Regions from separate parts of the Homo sapiens genome. Here region 2 is linked to region 1. Evidence: fine-mapped expression QTL. A gene starts in region 1. The other region holds a variant in brackets. All regions are shown on one strand. Distances are from middle to middle. Region 1 holds the start of CBLL1 (Cbl proto-oncogene like 1). Region 2 overlaps DLD (dihydrolipoamide dehydrogenase).

Evidence for each region.
Region 2: its variant is fine-mapped to the expression of CBLL1 in whole blood (TOPMed, PIP above 0.99).

What each region holds. Positions count from the first base shown.
Region 1 is chr7:107,738,550-107,748,377 of GRCh38, reverse strand. CBLL1 (Cbl proto-oncogene like 1) reads right to left here and starts at 4,236. Exons shown (of 6, transcript NM_024814.4): 1 at 4,202-4,236. The coding sequence starts at 4,214. CBLL1-AS1 (CBLL1 antisense RNA 1) reads left to right here and starts at 3,797. Exons shown (of 2, transcript NR_144537.1): 1 at 3,797-4,005; 2 at 4,975-5,625. RefSeq lists enhancers at 3,762-3,941, 4,292-4,511, 4,609-5,127, 5,128-5,647 and a silencer at 4,552-4,751.
Region 2 is chr7:107,919,306-107,929,086 of GRCh38, reverse strand. DLD (dihydrolipoamide dehydrogenase) reads right to left here. Exons shown (of 14, transcript NM_000108.5): 14 at 7,889-9,781. It overlaps LAMB1 (laminin subunit beta 1), which reads left to right. Exons shown (of 34, transcript NM_002291.3): 31 at 1-23; 32 at 2,728-2,904; 33 at 4,698-4,857; 34 at 5,000-5,288. The coding sequence ends at 5,136. Among named protein-coding and RNA genes, the nearest start is that of DLD, 33 kb to the right of the region's middle. The variant A/G (reference allele first, on the strand shown) is at 3,707.

The sequences.
Region 1 (9,828 bases):
GTTAAGAAATGTGATTATTCCTTAAGCGCAAAATAATTATTCTAAAAATCATTCAGAAATATAGTAAAAATCATTATACCATTTAGTAGTAAAAACATGCAATAATGTATTTGTGCTATAACATGTGACTGAGTTCTTAGTCAGCACTGTAATGGAAAATTATAATTTAAGAGGATGCAAAGTTCCTATACTACAACTAGGTCTAAACAAGTGTCACTTTCTAGTCCCTGGAGTCTTTGCTTGTTATTGTCTATAGAATAAATTAATTCTTGTCCCATGAGTAACAGGAGTATTATTTCATAGAACTGACTCCATCTAAAGCTTAAGAGTTACCTTTTTTCAAGTAGATGAAAATATATAATACAGAAAATATTTAACTTGACCTACTAAAGAAGGAAAATGCTTAAAATAGGAAATACAAATAACGTATTTTTTAATTTGTAGTGTTTTAAACATGACAAGTTATTGAACAAGGTTGTATAACTGCCCCTGCAGGAAATATTACAGTCAAGACTGATAGCCAAACCATCCACATTAAATTCAGCAAAGCCAAATTTGGAAGTAGTAAGCTAGTACCAATGGCCTCCAAGGCTACTAGGATTACAGACACACAATAAGTTCACATTCATTTGCACTTTTTCTGAACAAAATACCAAACAAAATTAAAAATGGGTCCATAACGATTATTTTAATCTACTTACTACTCTTATAACAGCTAATCCTAAAACAAAGAGGGGTGGAATTACATGGTTAGCTAGAATCTTGAGTTAGGGTTAACCCAACTTGATCAGCTTTCAACACTTCATTAAATAGACTCACAAGCTGATTAATGTATTTGATCTGTTTTCATTGTAGTTGCTTATGTATGTAAAAGTACTTACAAGCAATGCATTGGCCAAAAGAAATATGAATGACTTTTTTCCTTGCTCAAAAAGTATTCCTGACATTCCAATGAACTAAAAAGCAAGTCGTTGTAGACATATAATCAGTTCAATGCTGTCCCTCAAATATTAAATATTCAAATATCAAAATGGTTTAATCGTTTTACCTTTGTGAATAATGAAAATACCAACACTTCATTACAAGTCCTTTTCACACCATCCTGAACACTTGAGGTCTCTACTGTTGCTTGCATAGTCTACCACTTTCAAGAGCTGGCTGGCCCTTCCCACTCTGCTTCACAGATTCAAGTTCATGAGGTACAGCATTTAATAATGATAACATTCTGGGTTTCTTTGGGACTTTTTTGCTTTTTGTTGTTTTTAAATTAAGAATCAGAGCATAAAGCACTATTTCCTTTTGAATACAGTAACAAATTATAAAGTCCTTAACAACAAAAATTTCTTAGATATTACATAGAAAGTGACTAAGGACTACTGGCCACTTCAGATAAATTCACTTTAAAAAGGCACAACACTTCCATATCATATAGTTTAAAAAAGATTGGGGATTTTTTATCTTGAATAAAAAGAACCAATAAATATTTTACAAAATCTGGGATCTTTTACAAAATCTGGGATACAGTTACAGAAGTGCTAATTCTTAGAATGACCAAAGAATAAATCCAGTGTTAATGGGGAGCCCCTTGGAGTAATTTTTCTGGCAAGATTCTATTAGAACACCTTCATTTTCACATTTGAATGTTTCGGTATGATCATAAAATGGGTCATTTTTGCATAATGTTCAAGGGTTTCATCTGTTTCCCCAAGGACCTCTTAATCCTTTAATATTACAATTATTCTTTTGAGATGCCTATCCTGTCATGATTCTTCAATTATCTAGCTAAGTGGCATTTCCTCATTTGTCAAAGCCTTTGTGATTTAAACAATTATCAAATTCATGTTTACGAATTTCATGAAAACCAGAATCTTCTACAAGGTTTATAATTTTATTTCACAATCAGTGCACAGTATTTGATACTGTCTTCTGATACTAAACATCAAAGAGATTGATTCATTTAAAAAAAATAAAATAGGTAAGAAGCTAGTGTTAAGCAGAAGGGACATCTGAGAGGGAACTAATTTTTTAAGTGGTCAGCTCATTCGTGAGTATTTTCATGTTAAGATGAGTTTTACTTCCTTAGGCAATCTCTAAACTTCAAGAATTAAGATAATAAACACTCTTTACACTCACCCCTATTATGATTTCCTAACATAATAGCCTCTAAACTATGGCAGGAACTTGACTCATAATTCCAGTAGTGGGCTCAAATAAGAATTACTTTCCTAAAGTTGAATGTTTGCTATTCTAACATCAAAATCCCAGTTTCAACTCTATAAATTCCCAAACACTGGAATTCTTTACAGCCTCGTTCTAGGCCGGCTTCTCCTCTGAACACACCCTTCTTAAGTGGTCTCATCTGTCCTCATGCTTTAAAATACCAGCTATAAATAAAGGTACTAACTTCCAAATACGTATTTTCAGTGCAGATCTTTCCTCTCATCTCCACTTGGCATCTCTCCTGTGTCTCAGTAGTTATCTCACACTAGCAGTCCAAGACCAAACACTTGTTCCCAAATTCCCGTCTCACCTCTACAAAAAAAGATTGTTTTCTGCCCCAAGTTTTCCTCAGCTCAATAATGGACCCTACCTAGTTGCTCAAACCAAAAGCCTAGGCATTTCTCCTTTCTCTCACATTCCTTCAAACACCACCAGAGTATTTACTGAAGCTGCCCATTCTCCTTCATTTTCACCAAACCAACCTTCCCTTCCCGTCTACTGCAATCAGCTATTTTCCATCATTCTTACCTCCCTCTCTTACACCATTCTTCATAGAACAGCCTATTGTATTTTTTAAGAGACTGTGTTCCTCCTCCACTTCTGTTCAATGGCTTCATATTCACTTAAATTAAAATTCAAACGTTTACCACGGCTTTCAATGACCTGAATGATGTGCCTGCTGCCCTCCTTTCCAATCTCACTTCAGGACTCCTACCCTCTGGCTATTAGGAGGCTGCAGCTGACTTCACTGTATCTTCCTACCTCAGTGCCTTCGCACTTGCTGGAAATGCTCTTCCTCTTGCTTTTTTCCCAGGGCTGGGTTCTTCTCATCCATCAGATCTTAGCTTCCACAAAGACCATTCCTAACAACCCTCTCTGAAATTTCGTCCTATGAATCTCTCCACAGCACTCGTTTATTTTCTTCAAAATAATCCGCAAACATTAAAAAAATAATAAATTTAAAAAAAAAGAACGTATTGTCTGTGTTCCTCCATAAAACAGAAGTTCTATCACGGACCTGGTCCGTCTCGTTTACCATTCCATCTTCCATCTCCCGACCTATAGATATCTGCATGTATCTTGCATAAATAAACATACACACCTACATAAATAAACATACACACCTAATTATATAACCAAGTAGATATCTGATGAGTGAGGACAACTCAATACTCAAGAAAAAGCCTTTTTTTCTCTATTTGTGATACGGTCGCTATAAATGTATGGGGCACATAACTCCAAGAGCACTCATTCAATATCCAAGAACCACAAAGAAGCAAAAGCCAGAAAATACATAACAAAGGGTGGAGCCACTCTTACTTGGAGAAAAGTATGAGAATGCCTTGATTTTAAACTCCTCTTTGTAAATACCCTCAAATGATGAGTAAGGACCTCAGCCGAAGCGCGGGGCATGCTTTTGGTTTAGGTAGAAAAACTGCTCCGAGTTTGATTCCAAAAACTCTATCAGACTCCCTTCTTTCACCCCTCTAGTCCATAAAGGATCGGAGAGACGACAGGGGGTGACCACTGCAGCACCCGCCCAAAGCTGACTGAGACAGCAGGAAGTCTCCAACCCATTCTCGCCCGTCCACTCCCAGCGTAAAGAGGATTCCGCGACTCGGAGACCGCAATCTACCCGCCAGTCTCCATAACGTAGGCCAGAGCAGCTGGGCTAAATAAAACAGAGCCGGGGCTCTCCCTTCCCGAAGGCCTACATCGCCCACTGGTCCGGGCTCGGAGCTCAGCAGAACCAGAGTAGGAGCGGTTGTTGCCGGCACGGAGGAGGTAGGTACCACACCAGACGGTAGGCCAGGAAACCGCAGGCCCCTGCCGGGCACAGGAAGGCATCTGTGAGATTTCTTCTCACTGCCACACCCTAGTGTTGTGGGGCGAGCATAATCCCTTTTGCCTGCTGTGCGACCAGCCCCAGGCCGGCCAAGGGGGCTTGGAACCGGGACCCCCACTGCCTCCGCCTCCTTACCAGTGTGATCCATGATTCGGCTCGCAGAGCACAGTGGGAGCGGAAGTCAACCGCGCCGGAGTCGCAGCGAGCGCGTGCGCACTGCCTTCCGGAGGCCGGGAGGCGGAAGTCCAAGCAGGTTGTCCCAATTTTGGCCTGCAAAGACTTCCTTCTCTCGCCTCTACTATCCAACTCCTGTGAGGGACTCAGGCATAGTTCGGGCGGAGGCAGAAAGAGCGAGCGCGCGAAGAACTTCGGTATTGAGGTTGCTAAGGCTTCTCCTCATGTGCTTCAAGAGAAAGTAGCCTTTAACTGTGGAAAGGACACCAGGGGGACCGGGGAAGGGGAGAGCAGTGGTAAAAATGAGCCAGAAGCAGATAAGGCGACTGCCCGCCCCGCGGAGAGCTGCCTTCTGGGACTTGTAGTGCGCGGGGCCCCCGGAGCCGGCTGGCTGCGCAGGCTCGGCCGTTGCGCTGGCCCCACCCCGGCGGGCGGAGTAACGGTTTGGAATCCCCCGGGGTCAGCGAGCGCTTGTTTCCTCCGCCTGGTGTAGCAAAAGTGTAAACACGCGCGCTCCGGAAGGCGCCCTCCAGTGGGAGGTTGCTCAGGGGATGGCGGAGCTGTGAAACTCGGAGCTAGAAGGAAAGTCTCAACGCTTGTCTAAATTTTGCTTTGTCGTGACGAGCTACCTAGACCCACGCAGAGCTAACTTGGTATATGCCCCGGTTCCCATCTCTTAAGTCTCTTTACAGTTGAAACACGTTTATAATGCTTGACTGCCACTCACTTTCTAGGGAGAGCGCTTGTGACGCTACGAACCTCTCGAACACCTGACGACTGGGCGCCAGGGCCGGATGGAGGGTGGAGAGCCAGTGCGGCGCAGCTGCCTCCTCTTAACGGGGACACCTTGCAGGAATGTGCGGAGTGGAGCTAACGGGAGCGGATAGAAACCGAGGGAGGGGAAGAGAGCGCGAAGGCTTGGCCGGAAGGAGAGGTTAAAAAGGAAAGGCCTAAAATGAGGAAGAGAGTTACCACAACAAGCAGTACCTAGTTCCAGTTCTTGGTCCCAGGAGTTTGTGGTTGTTGCTGCTTTCATCTTCCTCAGCCAACACAAAAGGAAAGTGCCAAGGGGCGATTCCTAGGACCTTCAGTGCAGTCTCCACCTTGCGGACTTGGCTCATTTGTGTCCACTCCTTTCTCCAGCCTTTTACACTTGATGCTCTTGGATGAATAGAAAGGAGCACAATTAATGGAAAACACAAGCTTGGGAGTCAAGGGATTTGGGTTCTATTCTTGTCCTCCCTTGGTGACGACATCATTACCTTGGGTTATTCAAGCTTTCAGTGCCAGAGTTCCTATATCAATAAAAGATTATTACATTGACCTCTTAGAGAAATGTTTTCATGGTACTGAATTGCAAATAAAGTATGTGTAGCGATGTGTTATATCTTTGTAGTTGTACGGTATTATTTGTGAATCATGCTGTGATGATCAGTGCGATTTAAGTGCACCATGTTATTTGGTGATTATTTTCCTGAGATCTTGTAAAAGATTTTTCTGCTCTATATATGCAGCTTTATAAACAAGTTTTTAGGTACATTCACAACTAAGGACATTTGTGAATCAAAATTACCCCTGCTTTTTTTAAATGTAAAGTTCTGTATTGCTAGGTGGTTTTCAAGATGCTTTCAGTTTCTGGGATTATTGTTTTGGGCATTGGGGCTTGCCTAACCTTTTTCCCATACCTCCCTATTTTTCTAAATACAGTGTTGATATAGTCAGGCATTTTTCACCAATTTGGGTTTTTTTTTTTTTTTTAAGTTTTCACTTAGAAAGTACTTCTTTTTCATATTAAAAAAATTTTTTTTAGAGATGGGGCAGCCCAAACTGGAACACAATGGCAGAATCATAGCTCACTGCATCCTTGGACTCCCGGGCTCAAGGGGTCCTTATGCCTCAGCCTCCGGAGTAGTTGGGACTACAGATGCTCATCACCACCACTGGCTTTGATTTTTTTGTTCTATCATACTTAGCCTATCAGCTAACGGTTAACCTTCAGATTCATGGAAATCCAGGTTCAGAATAGTATTATTAATGTCTGCTGATGCTAATATTTAAATAATTAGAATTAAAAAGAGCTTTCAAATTGTATTTTATATAATTTAACCTGTAAGTTAGAAGTTTTGTTGGCATTTTATGGTGCATCAAGAAAATTTACTGAGAGAAGATGTACTTACTTTAGATCTGATAAAATGTTAAACATTTGTTTGATTTGATTTGACATCTCTTACTTTCAGGCATTGCTTTAGCATCTGTGGTCTGTATTTACCCCCTTAATTGTGGTTGCCTTGAATTACCAATGCAGTAGCAGTGTGATAAATTAATTTCTTTACCTATGTTTTATTACTGCCCTCTAGTATCTCTTTTCAGCGACCAGCGTGCTGTAACCAGTCACAATTTCTTTATCAAGAGTTGCCATTAATATTTATTTATAGAGCATAAGGTTTATATTGCTTATATATAAGCTATATATAGTTTAGGTGCTGACCTAAGGTTTATAAAAGTGAAAACTTACTGTAATGGGCAGTCTGAAGCACTGAGGTGCACCTTTTTATCTTACTGGCAAGACCATCTACTACCTATGAATTATAAGGTAGTGGTCTCCAAGATGTTTTGATAGCCTCCCATTTACATAGTTACTGTTTATGCTATGAGAAAAGTAAGAGGGGTATCAGAGAGCTTGTTTTCCCCAATAGCCTGTTACGGACTCCTCAGTACCAAGTAAGGACAAAAACCTTCATCTCCTAACACTCTTTCAACTGTATCCCACTGAGTGCCTGCCTAGGACTGCATAAGGCAAAAGCTGTATAAATAATGGCCCCTACTTCAAGGATCCTACAGGATATCATTTTAAGAAATATGTGAAGATCTATATAATTTAGTTCTAAGTGTTGAGAGGAAATTCAGTGCTACTTACATTTAGATAAAGTAGTGGGACTGAGAGTAGTTAGGTTAGCTTTATGGAGGGATTTAAGCTGAGCCTTATGTGAATGGATAAAATTTGGAGAGGAGGAGAGCAATAAAAGGCATATCACACAGAGAAAAGCAAGGGCACAGATGTGAGAATTGTATGGTTTCTATAGAGGACAGTGAAGAGCTTTATTTGTACTGTTGATCCATGTTTGGGAGTTCTAAAAAAATAAGTTATTATGGAGCACCTTGAAAAAGTAAGATTTCAGAGTAACAGTAAAGAAATAGAGCATTTAACAAAACCCAGCATAATATATTCATAGAAACAATATAATCCAGCAAAATATATTCAAAAACAATGAGCAAATCTTAACTTGGGGTGGGGAGATGAATCAGTTGATGAACAATCAGTCAGAATTAAAGTGTAATACTATTACACCTAGACCAAGAACAATTGACCAGGAAGCCAGCGATACCTATGATAGCCAAAATGCCATGAAGTATGAATGAATTGTTAGTAAAAAAAAAAAAACGGATCCAGGTAGTGTCCAGTATATATTAATACGTTTGATAAGCAGAAATGGAAAAGGCAGTAAAATATCCTGGTTAGATATATGCCTTATCAAGCTATGGCAGCCAGCTTTTCAAACACCATGAAAAACTGGGCAAGAGGCAGATTCAGAGAATAAGAGGGAAATAGACTGTAAAAACAGAATGTTGCTGATTGAAGGCATTGTCCCGTTCCTGTCTCGAAGGAGATTCATTCTCGTTGAGGCCTGGCAATATATGTACTCATTTGAAAAGGAACCTTTTGATCTAGAGAGGTCCTGCAGCCTTCCTTCTTTTCTGAGAAGGAAAATTTTGTTGTGGATATCCTTTGAGCTGGATAGACCTGTCCCTCCCTACAGCTTCTTTGCTAATATAATTGCCTCCAGTTCACTCCTAAAAGAATGCTTAGGGTATTAAACTGCTCTGTAGTAAGCAATTAGTCTGTATATTGTTTCCTAAACTTAAGAAGGCTTTTGTTCAAGGGCCCCTGACCCTAACCTCAGCTGCCACTCCATGCCAGTTGAAAAAGGCTTTCAGCCTTCCTTGGTGCTATGGTTTGAATGAAGGTATTCCTCCAAAATTCATATGTTGGAACTTAAACCCCAAGGTGGTGATATTAAGAGGTGGGGCCTTTTGGGAAGTGATTTAGCTGTGAGGGCTTTGCTGTCATGAATGGTATTGCCGTTAGAGTCCTCAGAGAGCTGCCTGTGAGCCATGTGAGGACAGAGCATTCATCCCTTCCAGTATATAAGCAACAGGGTGCTCATCTCGGAAGCAGAGAACCCTCACAAGACACTAAATCTGCTGACACCTTGATCATGGACTTCCCAGCCTCCAGAACTGTAAGAAATAAATTTTTATTGTTTATAAATTACGCAGTCTCAGGTATTTTGTTACAGCAGTACAAACAGACTAAAACACCTGGTCCACTTGGTTTGTAAGTAGATCCTGTTACTGTTAAATAAATGTTTCTGTCAGAAATACATTCTACATCATAGTCCAGTACATAAACTCACAACACCTAAGCATATATGTAAGTGTCATGAAACTATACTTACCCTTTCTATATGCAGTTCTCTCTGCTATTTTTATTCTGTCCCTTTAAAAAAAATGTTGGTTATAATACACTAAAATAATGTCAAAGTGCACTAATTGGTTATAATTCAAGTTTGAAAACCACTGCTTTATAGCTCCCATGATGTTTTGAAGAGCTTTTTGTATTGGTCAGGGTTCTCTAGAGGGACAGAACTAATAGGATAGATAGATCCTATTATTATTAAATTATTAAATATCCTATTATTATTAAAGGGACTTTAAATATTAACTCACACAATCACAAGGTCTCACAATAGGCCATCTGTAAGCTGAGGAGGAAGGAGAGCCAGTCCAAGCCCCAAAACAAGAACTTGGAATCCGATGTTTGAGGGTAGGAAGCATCCAGCACGGGAGAAAGATCTAGGCTGGGAGGCTAGGCTAGTCTTGTCTTTTCACATTTTTCTGCCTGCTTTATATATTCTAACCACCCTGGCAGCTGATCAGATGGTGCCCACCCAGATTAAGTGTGGGTCTGCCTTTCCCAGCCCACTGACTCAAATGTTAATCTCCTTTGGCAACACCCTCACAGACACACCCAGGATCAATATTTTGCATCCTTCAATCAAGTTGACCCTCAGCACTAACCATCATAAGTCTACTACTTGTCAGCTTGAACCCATACACATCTCCTGAGATCACACATCATCTTCAAATAAAGACAATAATAAGGTCATAATTACATCTAACATAATAAAACCATCCTTTGTACAAACGGAAACGCACCAATCTCCTACCCAAATACTATTACATAAAGTTAATATTTAAATGCTGATGTGAAGTCAATAAATCTTATGTCACATGGTAACAGAAAAAGGAAATAAAATGGAGATATTTTCTTAGTACAAGTGTATACATGCACAAACATGTTTTTAACAAAAGAAGGAAGAAATACTCATGACAATTACAGTCCTTGTGTCTGCAGCTGGTCATGTGGTCGTAGCTGGTACTGATGACTACCCTCTTCTACTGTCCGTTCTGTATTCCATTTGGCTTCAGCAGGCACCTCAGGAGGTCATGGTTTTTTCCTGGTGGAG
Region 2 (9,781 bases), 180 kb before region 1:
GAACCCAGAACCTGTTAACTTCGGTAGGCATACACAATCATTACATGAATGGGAACACACCTACATATACACTTACCAGAAAAGTACATTTGTTATCTATGAACAGAAATTCTTACAACTCAACATTAAAGGATTCCTTTAATAAATCTAAACTACTCCGTTAGCATGGATGCTAAAAATAAGTGGAGATAGGTTTTCAAGGAATAAAAGGACTCTGATTCAGACACTGGACCATTACGTCCCATCTCATTTTCTCCCCCACAAAGTCTGAGAAAGATAAAAACTTCTATTCTTGGGCGGGCATGGTGGCTCACGCCTGTAATTCCAGCATTTTGGGAGGCCGAGGTGGGTGGGTCATTTGAGGTCAGTAGTTCAAGACCAGCGTGGCCAACATGGCAAAACCCCTTCTCTACTAAAGATACAAAAGTTAGCTGGGCATAGTGGTGTGTGCCTGTAGTCCCAGCTACCTGGGAGGCTAAGGCAGGAGAATTGCTTGAACCGGGGAGGTCGAGGTTGCAATGAGCTGAGATCACACCACTGTACTCCAGTCTGGGCAACAGAGACTCCATCTCAAAAAAAAAAAAAGCACTCCTATTCATTGAGGAAACAGCATATACTCTGTTCAGTAGTATGAAGTATAATAATTTTAGAAAACTGTCCTGATGTTATAAAGCAGCTTATCTGGTTAAGAAGGCCAATGTCTCAAGATTTTGGTCATCAAACATTTTACTATATAGTAGTTTTGGAAACTATGGGAGAACAGTCAGTCTGCTTTCAATACCCAATTCTAGAGAAACCTAATAGAGCACTTATAGCTAAACAATCTGTTCTGTTTAGAATGCATGGAAAACTTAATGTTTTTTATAAGAAATATACTGTGACTACCAGATATTAAAAGTACTCATTACGAATTTTTCATAGGGATCTAGCACCTTGCTCTAAAAATCCTCTTTATCTCTTAAAAGAAGTAATGCAAACATAATTCCATTAAATTCTTTTGTTTCTCAGAAAGTTAATGTTTTCGTTCCAATTTTACGAGTTTTTAAAAAATGAAGAAAATTGATGAGTTATCTAATCCCTATACAGGTTCTCAGAATATACTTTGAAATTAAATGCTCCCATACCCAGCATTGTCAGCCTTCTCAGGCCAATCCTCCATGTGTTTAAAACCTGGGAAGATGAATTTTCAACATGCTTTTCTTACCATTAGTTGGTAAAAACCTGTGTTCCCCTATTCTATTGCTGTCAGTTAAATGAAGGCCAATAATTCTGTCCATTTTCCTCCTTAAATTTCGAGTATCAATAAGACTTTTTCTTCAGGCTATTTGTTCAAGTTTAGAAAAATTATGTTTTCCCACCAGACTATAAATATTTTGATGTTTCGATCTCTAGGTTTTTCCATTTTCTCAGTTTGCTGTTAATATTTTAGTGAATATTATGTCAGTGACTGTAGAAATTATTGTTTTGAAAGCCAGGTGCAGCAGTGTGTGCCTGTAGTCCCAGCCACTTGGGAGGTGGAGGTGAGAGGATCACTTAAGGCCAAGAGTTTGAGACTATAGTGCACTATGATCATGCCTGTAAACAAACAGTCACTGCACTCCAGCCTGGGAAATATAGCAAGACCCTGTTTCTTGAAAAAAATTGTTCTGAAAAGCAAATTAGAAAATACTGAATTATAGGTGAGATGTGGCTTGATGATGCAAGTTAATAATTGGGGTTCTGTTTTTCAGGGGCCCTAGGGGGCAGGAAGTGTTTTAGGTTAGTAACAATAAGAAACAAAGAGAACCTCTAACTAAACTGTGTTCATGAAAGCTTATCAGAAACAATTCACTCAAACTTTATCTTCTAAGAATTATAATTTCTAAGAATTTTATTCTAATTAAAGGGTCCTTAGGTTTGAAATATTTACAAATTTTAGCCTATGTCTTATACTGACCCTTATTAACTTCATTATAGCAGTACTGTTATTCAGTTAATTCTATGTAATTAGACCCATCCTTGAAGATCATTTTAAAGAAAAATTGAGTGCTCAGTGAAATTGATTCTTTTGTCATGGGCTCAACTGCTTACTTTGGCTAGCTTTTAAAAGTCAATGTTTATTGATTCTACTTTGAAAGGAGATCAGATGTGGATCCTCACCAGTTGCCCAGATATTTTTTTTTCCCTAAATAACTTTGTGTATTTAGAGTTTACAGCTGTAACGTTCCCAGACCATACATCATCTCACAATTCTATAGAAATTCAAAGAACATCCCTAGTCTCCATGTCTTCAGTAATTAGCTGAAATCTCCACTACTAGAGTTTAACATTTATTTTCCCACTCACATTAAGTTGGAAATTTATGTGGAAATCCCTCTTCGCACAGCTGCTTATTTGTGAATGTTCTTTAGCCAAAGTTTGCAGGTGTCCTTAAAATGCTTTCTCAACACATCATGCTCCTTGGGGAGGTGGGGTTTTTTGTTTTTTTTTACTGTCAGAAAAAATTTTACATCAATCTCAGCTTAGATCATCAGAAGTACTGAAAGAATGAAGTGAATATATGAAATGTAGCAAAGACTAAAGTTAGATACTTCATGTAACTTTTCCTGAAATATTCTTTTTAGTAATTACTTCTTTTGGTCTAGAGCAAAATGGCACAGCAGACTTTTAAATCTTCCTCCAAACTTGTACTCATAGTAATTCCATTTCTTAAACTAATGTCTTGCTGGAAAATTGACATGCTTTTAGATTGAGTCTGAAACAGCAGCTTCTGAGGAAACCTTGTTCAACGCGTCCCAGCGCATCAGCGAGTTAGAGAGGAATGTGGAAGAACTTAAGCGGAAAGCTGCCCAAAACTCCGGGGAGGCAGAATATATTGAAAAAGTAGTATATACTGTGAAGCAAAGTGCAGAAGATGTTAAGAAGGTACGTAAATCTTTGTAATTTCAGAGCTATGTTGTTAAAGGAGCCACCAGTCTCCTCCTTGCCTGCCTTAGAGTAAGGGACATGGACCTAACAGAAACAGAATTCATCAGAAATATCAAATGACCTGTTTTGCAACAGCCGTCTTTAGAAGTGTGGATGGGAAAGAATATGGAAATATCTAATAAGTATGACCTATGTCCTCAAATCCAAATTTGGACAAGAGTTTAGAAGAACGGAATTAACTTAGGGGTAGAAGTCTCAAAACAGGCTTTTTTTTTTTTTTTAAACCAACTATATTGACAAAAACCAGTCATATTGAACTTTTATTTCTGTGCGGTAGTCAGTTAAATTCTTCATGGCATATAGTAATTATCAGGCCATTTGAGAATATTTTACAAGCAGGTTGGAACAGAGAACAGGTAGTAGGAAACCAAATCTTATCTCTTTGAGACTCATTTTGAATTAACTACCCCTCACCTCTCATTCGAAGGCACTATATTTTGCAGAGAAAAACTCACACAACCCAAATGTTTAATCAGAAGCCATGTAATAACTGAAACACATGTTCAGTTTCTCAATAATGCTTATTTCTAAAGAGAACATTAAAAACTTGGTGGCGCCGGGGTGGGGCTTAAAACCATTGAATCACTGGTCCCCAACTTTTTTGGCACCAAGGACCAGTTTCCTGGAAGACAATTTTTCCAGACTCGGGGGTGGGGATGGTTTCAGGATGAAACTGTTCCAGCTCAGATCAGGCATTAGATTCCATAAGGAGTGCACAACCTAGATCCCTTGCATGCAC[A/G]GTTCCCAATAGGATTCGTGCTCCTATGAGAATCTAATGTCACCACTGATCTGACAGAAGGTGGAGCTCAGGCAATAATACTTGCCTGCCCACCCAGTTCCTAACTGGTCCGTAGGCCTGGGGGCACCTGCATTTACTGACCTAATTTCAGTATTTAACTCCCTACTATTCAAAAATTTTCTGGAAGTTACTGTAGCTTTTCGGGCATTACGTAAGAGTAACTTTCCCTACCTCTCTCTAGGTTGGGAAAGAGAACAAAACAATGAGAAAAGTTCACTGCCACAATATCAGACAGCTGTCTTTTCTGTTTTGGTTTGTGTGGTTTCCTGCAGTACTGAGGACACAAATTTCTCAAGTACTCTGCTTCAGGGCATTTTGCATAATGACATTTTATCACAAGAGAAAGGAACAAAATCTCTTGAAATGAAATTTCCATAAATGGCTATTTGAACAGTTTCTAAAAAGAATCATTTGCATTCCAACCCCACACCCCATTTCTCTTCTCCTCACTCACTTCTTGCATATGCTACAATCTCACCTTTCCTTCCTGTATCTTTTGTTTAATCTTTTTCCTCTGATTTCCTTATAAGCAAGTCTTCACAAATCCTAATTTAGTCAAGATCCAAAGAGCCTCCACTTCTTCAATATGGGCTTCTCTAATGTCTAATCTACTTTTGAAAAATCTGCGCTTCTCTATGTAATTTGCAATACAATTATGCTACAACTTTTCTATAGAAAAGTAATAATCAGGAGAATGAGGACTTAGCCCTAAGGATTTGCTGCAACTCCAGAATTTTTTGAAATGTTCTTTAAAATCATGTCAATTTTGCATTCAATTCCACTGTTTGAAGATAAAATTTTAAATTACTTACCAGTGAATATCCTTGGTGGCCCTTAATCCAGAATGCATGCCATGATTACACTATTGCTCTTAAATGTAATTACTGACACTAACATTACCACTTCTTTCTGTCTAAATGTGGAACTATAGACTTTAGATGGTGAACTTGATGAAAAGTATAAAAAAGTAGAAAATTTAATTGCCAAAAAAACTGAAGAGTCAGCTGATGCCAGAAGGAAAGCCGAAATGCTACAAAATGAAGCAAAAACTCTTTTAGCTCAAGCAAATAGCAAGCTGCAACTGCTCAAAGGTGGGTCTTTTCACACAGGCTTATTTTTTAAATTACTTTAAGGCATCCATAGTTTATTTAAAAGTGAAAAATATATTCACTTTGTCTTGAGATCATCATAGTATAAATTGCTCAGACTTTATATATATATATCTCCCCACAGATTTAGAAAGAAAATATGAAGACAATCAAAGATACTTAGAAGATAAAGCTCAAGAATTAGCAAGACTGGAAGGAGAAGTCCGTTCACTCCTAAAGGATATAAGCCAGAAAGTTGCTGTGTATAGCACATGCTTGTAACAGAGGAGAATAAAAAATGGCTGAGGTGAACAAGGTAAAACAACTACATTTTAAAAACTGACTTAATGCTCTTCAAAATAAAACATCACCTATTTAATGTTTTTAATCACATTTTGTATGGAGTTAAATAAAGTACAGTGCTTTTGTATATATTTTGGTGTACTTGTTACTTTCACTGATTGTTGATGAATCCCTTTTTTCACTGTAAACGTGGATTTATAAACAAGTTTACTGCGTCCATGAAGACCCTAATTTATGTTGTCTATAAACAAGCTATTATATTTATTTGACAGGTAAACATCCTCCAAAACTCCACACCCTTGACTCCCCTCCTCCCAATCACCTCCCAGTGGGATTCCCAGGTTGAGGTTAAGGAGGACAAATATAGTCTATGCTACCATCACTATTTCAATGGTTGCTGAGTTGCTCCAGCCATCAAAACTCCTGTAAGTAAGTATTCCTTGCTCTAGGAATGAGAAAAAGCAACATTTTAGAAAATCAGCAGGATGTACTAGGGTTTGTAGTCATTACCACCTAGAAAAGGACTAGGGTTACTGAGGGGAAGGTTTCAGTTAAATCAGGCCAGAGTTTATGGATACTGCTCCTGCCAATTGAGCAATGCTACTACAGAGCACGGAATGATGCTCTAATTTCTCAGCTTTTGTATTGTATTTTATACTACAGAGCACAGAATGATGCTCTAATTTCTCAGCTTTTGTATTGTATTTTATGTGATTTTGCAACTAATCTAACGAAAGTAATTGCCAGGCCCATGTCAACTTTATTGCCTAACTAGCTGTATAAAAGGCTAGCCCCTATGTGTTTTTTTCACACATTCTTAGAGCAAGACTATTCTGTGGACTGCTTAACAACCACCCACACATCCAACACAGCTGCATCTGAAGCTGGGCCTGGACAACAGTTATGTAAACAGCTGTAAGTTAATAACTTTCCTCTGGCCCAAAGCAATAATTTGTCACTTTTATGGTACTGTTACCAAAACAGATATATAGACCAATGGAACAGAACAGAGGTCTCAGAAATAACACCACACATCTACAACAATCTGATCTTTGACAAACCTGACACAAGCAGTAGGGAAAGGATTCCCTATTTAATAAATGGTGTTGGGAAAACTGGCTAGCCATATGCAGAAAGCTGAAACTGGATCCCTTCCTTACACCTTATACAAACATTAACTCAAGATGGATTGAAGACTTAAACGTAAGACCTAAAACCATAAAAACCCTAGGCAATTACCATTCAGGACATAGGCATGGGCAAAGACTTCATGACTGAAACACCAAAAGCAATGGCAACAAAAGCCAAAATTGACAAACGGGATCTAATTAAAGAGCTTCTGCACAGCAAAAGAAACTATCATCAGAGTGAACAGGCAACCTAGAGAATGGGAGAAAATTTTTGCAAAGAACTTCAAACCCATCAAAAAGTTGGTGAAGGATATGAACAGACACTTCTCAAAAGAAGACATGCATGCAGCCAACAAACATGAAAAAAAGCTCATCATCACTGTTCAATAGAGAAATGCAAATCAAAACCACAATGAGATACCATCTCATGCCAGTTAGAATGACAATCATTAAAAAGTCAGCAAACAACAGATGCTGGAGAGGCTGTGGAGAAATAGGAACACTTTTACACTGTTAGTGGGAGTGTAAATTAGTTCAACCATTGTGGAAGACAGTGTGGCAATTCCTCAAGGATCTAGAACTAGAAATACCATTTGACCCAGCAATGCTATTACTGGGTATATACCCGAAGGATTATAAATCATTCTACTATAAAGACACATGCACATGTATGTTTATTGAGGCACTGTTCACAATAGCAAAGACTTGGAACCAACCCAAATGCCCATCTATGACAGAATGGATAAAGAAAATGTGGCACATATACACCATGGAATACTATGCAGCCATAATAAAGGATGAGTTCACATCCTTTGCAGGGACATGGATGAAGCTGGAAACCATCGTTCTCAGCAAACTAACACAAAAATAGAAAACCAAACACCACATGTTCTCACTTGTAAGTGGGAGGTGAACAATGAAAACACATGGACAAGGGGATGGGGGTGGGGGAGGGATAGCATTAAGAGAAATACCTAATGTAGATGATGGGTTGATGGGTGCAGCAAACCACCATGGCACATGTATACCTATGTAACAAACCTGCATGTTCTGCACATGTACCCCAGAACTTAATTAAAAAAAAAAATCCCAATAACTAGCAAAAATGGTCATACCCCATCATCTACTAGAGCAATTATGTAGTATTTTACTTAGAACAGTAGAAACACTCTCCATTCCTTTTCAGCTAAACAACTAAAGATCTCACTTTGAAATTACTTTTTTTTTTTTTTTGAGACGGAGTTTCGCTCTGTCGCCAGGCTAGAATGCAGTGGCATGATCTCAGCTCACCGCCTCCTGGGTTCAAGTGATTCTGCCTCAGCCTCCTGAGTAGTTGGGATTACAGGGGCCTGCCACCACACCTGGCTAATTTTTATATTTTTAGTAGAGATGGGGTTTTACCACATTGGTCAGGTTGGTCTCAAACTCCTGACCGCAGGTGATCTGCCCGCCCCGGCCTCCCAAAGTGCTGGGATTACAGGAGTGAGCCACCGCTCCCAGCCAGTTGAAATTACTAATTTTAATCAGTTCAATGAAGTGGACAATTAATTTCACTCTTCACAAGCCACAAAAATATTGACAGCTTAGTAGATAACAGTAAGTGAACACTTAAAACTTGTTTTATTCCTAGGACTTTATTCCCCATACAGATAAATTTGCATTCTCATACTGAATGTAAACACTTAAAGATGGATTTAACTCTACAGCTAGAATTCCATATTAAATTATATTTCACTATTCCCTAACTAAAAACTTTTTTTTCCCTGAGTAAGGGATATGTTGAGATTTACATAAACAGCACTTCACATGATACCGGGATTTCAAATTTTTAAAAAGATGCAGAGTTCACTTCCAATAATGGCAAAGTAGCACACAGATATCAGACCAACCCTCCTGCTGATAGCAACTGCAAACTCTGAACAAATATATTTTAGAAAAAACTAAAGGCACTGGAAACAACTATAAACAAGTGGAAAGTAGAGGGAAGTTGGCACTTAAAAAGTGAACAGCACTGGCTCAATGTCTCATTTTTAACGGGTTCTCACTTGAGGGGGAAACAAAAGCCAAGTTTTATTGGTTAAGGATCAGAAGGCAGAATATGGGGCAACCACAACAGCTGGAACATAAAGGGGAAACCCCCAAAAAACAGGAGGCACAGAAGGGGCAGACTTCCTTCTGCCCAAACTCTGGTTGACCCCTGAACTACACACTTGCATGGGAAAGACTTCCAGCAGCATAGCTAAAGCTAAAACAACTGAGAAGAGATTTCAGCTGCTGCCACCTACAAACAAGACAGAGTGTGGAGTTGGTGTTCAGCCAAGTTAACTGCCTCCTAAGACAACAATCAATTTTCTTTAGAAGTATGTAACAGAATCCAGGGTCATTATGTCACTCATGAGCATGAGACAATCTATGCTATCTATACCAAATTTCAGAACTACTTAATCTGAATTATTCTTAAATTTAGTTACAATATGCAAAAGCCTACTTAGCATTTAGTACTTTGTTACTTAAGTTTCCTCAGGACATGGCCATTTTAAACACCACACATCCAATTTTACAACACTCTTTAAATAAACAGTCATTAACCCAGCCAAGGAAAACACAGATTAAAGACTCCCTTATGTTGTACTTCTCCAAAAGTATATATTAAACATTTAGTAGGTGTATCTAAAATAGATGAAAGGATGATGACCTTTAAAATGCCTTAATATTGTCCTATAACATGAAAATAAAGATACATTCAGGCCTAGAAAAGAAATTAGAATATACACTAGAAGTAGTCATAAAAAAAACTATGACCATCTCAACACGTACTCATGATAACCAGTAAATGAATATTTAAGACGTTTATTTCAGTATCTTCATTCCCCACTGTAATACATTTGAATGCCCACGTATTTGAGTTCCGTAAATAGACTCTCTTAATTTGGGTAACTATATAATTACCCTTCAGAGTTGCAGACAACAATGGAAGCTTTAAAACCTCTTCAACACAAATGCTACCCCTAAAATGAAAGAATTTAGAGGTTAAATAAAACAAGTGAGAGACCGTTTACTTACATCAGTTCGGTTTATAGACATTTGAATCATATCTGAATGACTGACTTGTTTCCAATGTGAAAACCAAATTAAAAATAACTTGATCACTGTGCTTCAAACACAACTGTTCACATATCAAATTCTAGCTCCAGCCATGTAAAATTCAACTTTTCTGTATCAGAGAAAAAAGCTATTTAAATTCAGGGGCATTGAATCTTTCATGAACAGCATGAAAATATGAGTTGACGGAGATATTCCAGGATGCTACAATAAGTAGCTTTTTGTCTTACACATTAGTGCACTGAAACAAAATACTAAATTTATGTAAAATATAGATATAAGAGTATTCCATTTTGTCCAAACCTATTAAATACCTTCCAAAAGTTTCATAATTCAGTCCTAGAAATTCTTGGAGCTGTGAGAATATCCTGTTCAGGAATGTGACTTCTACA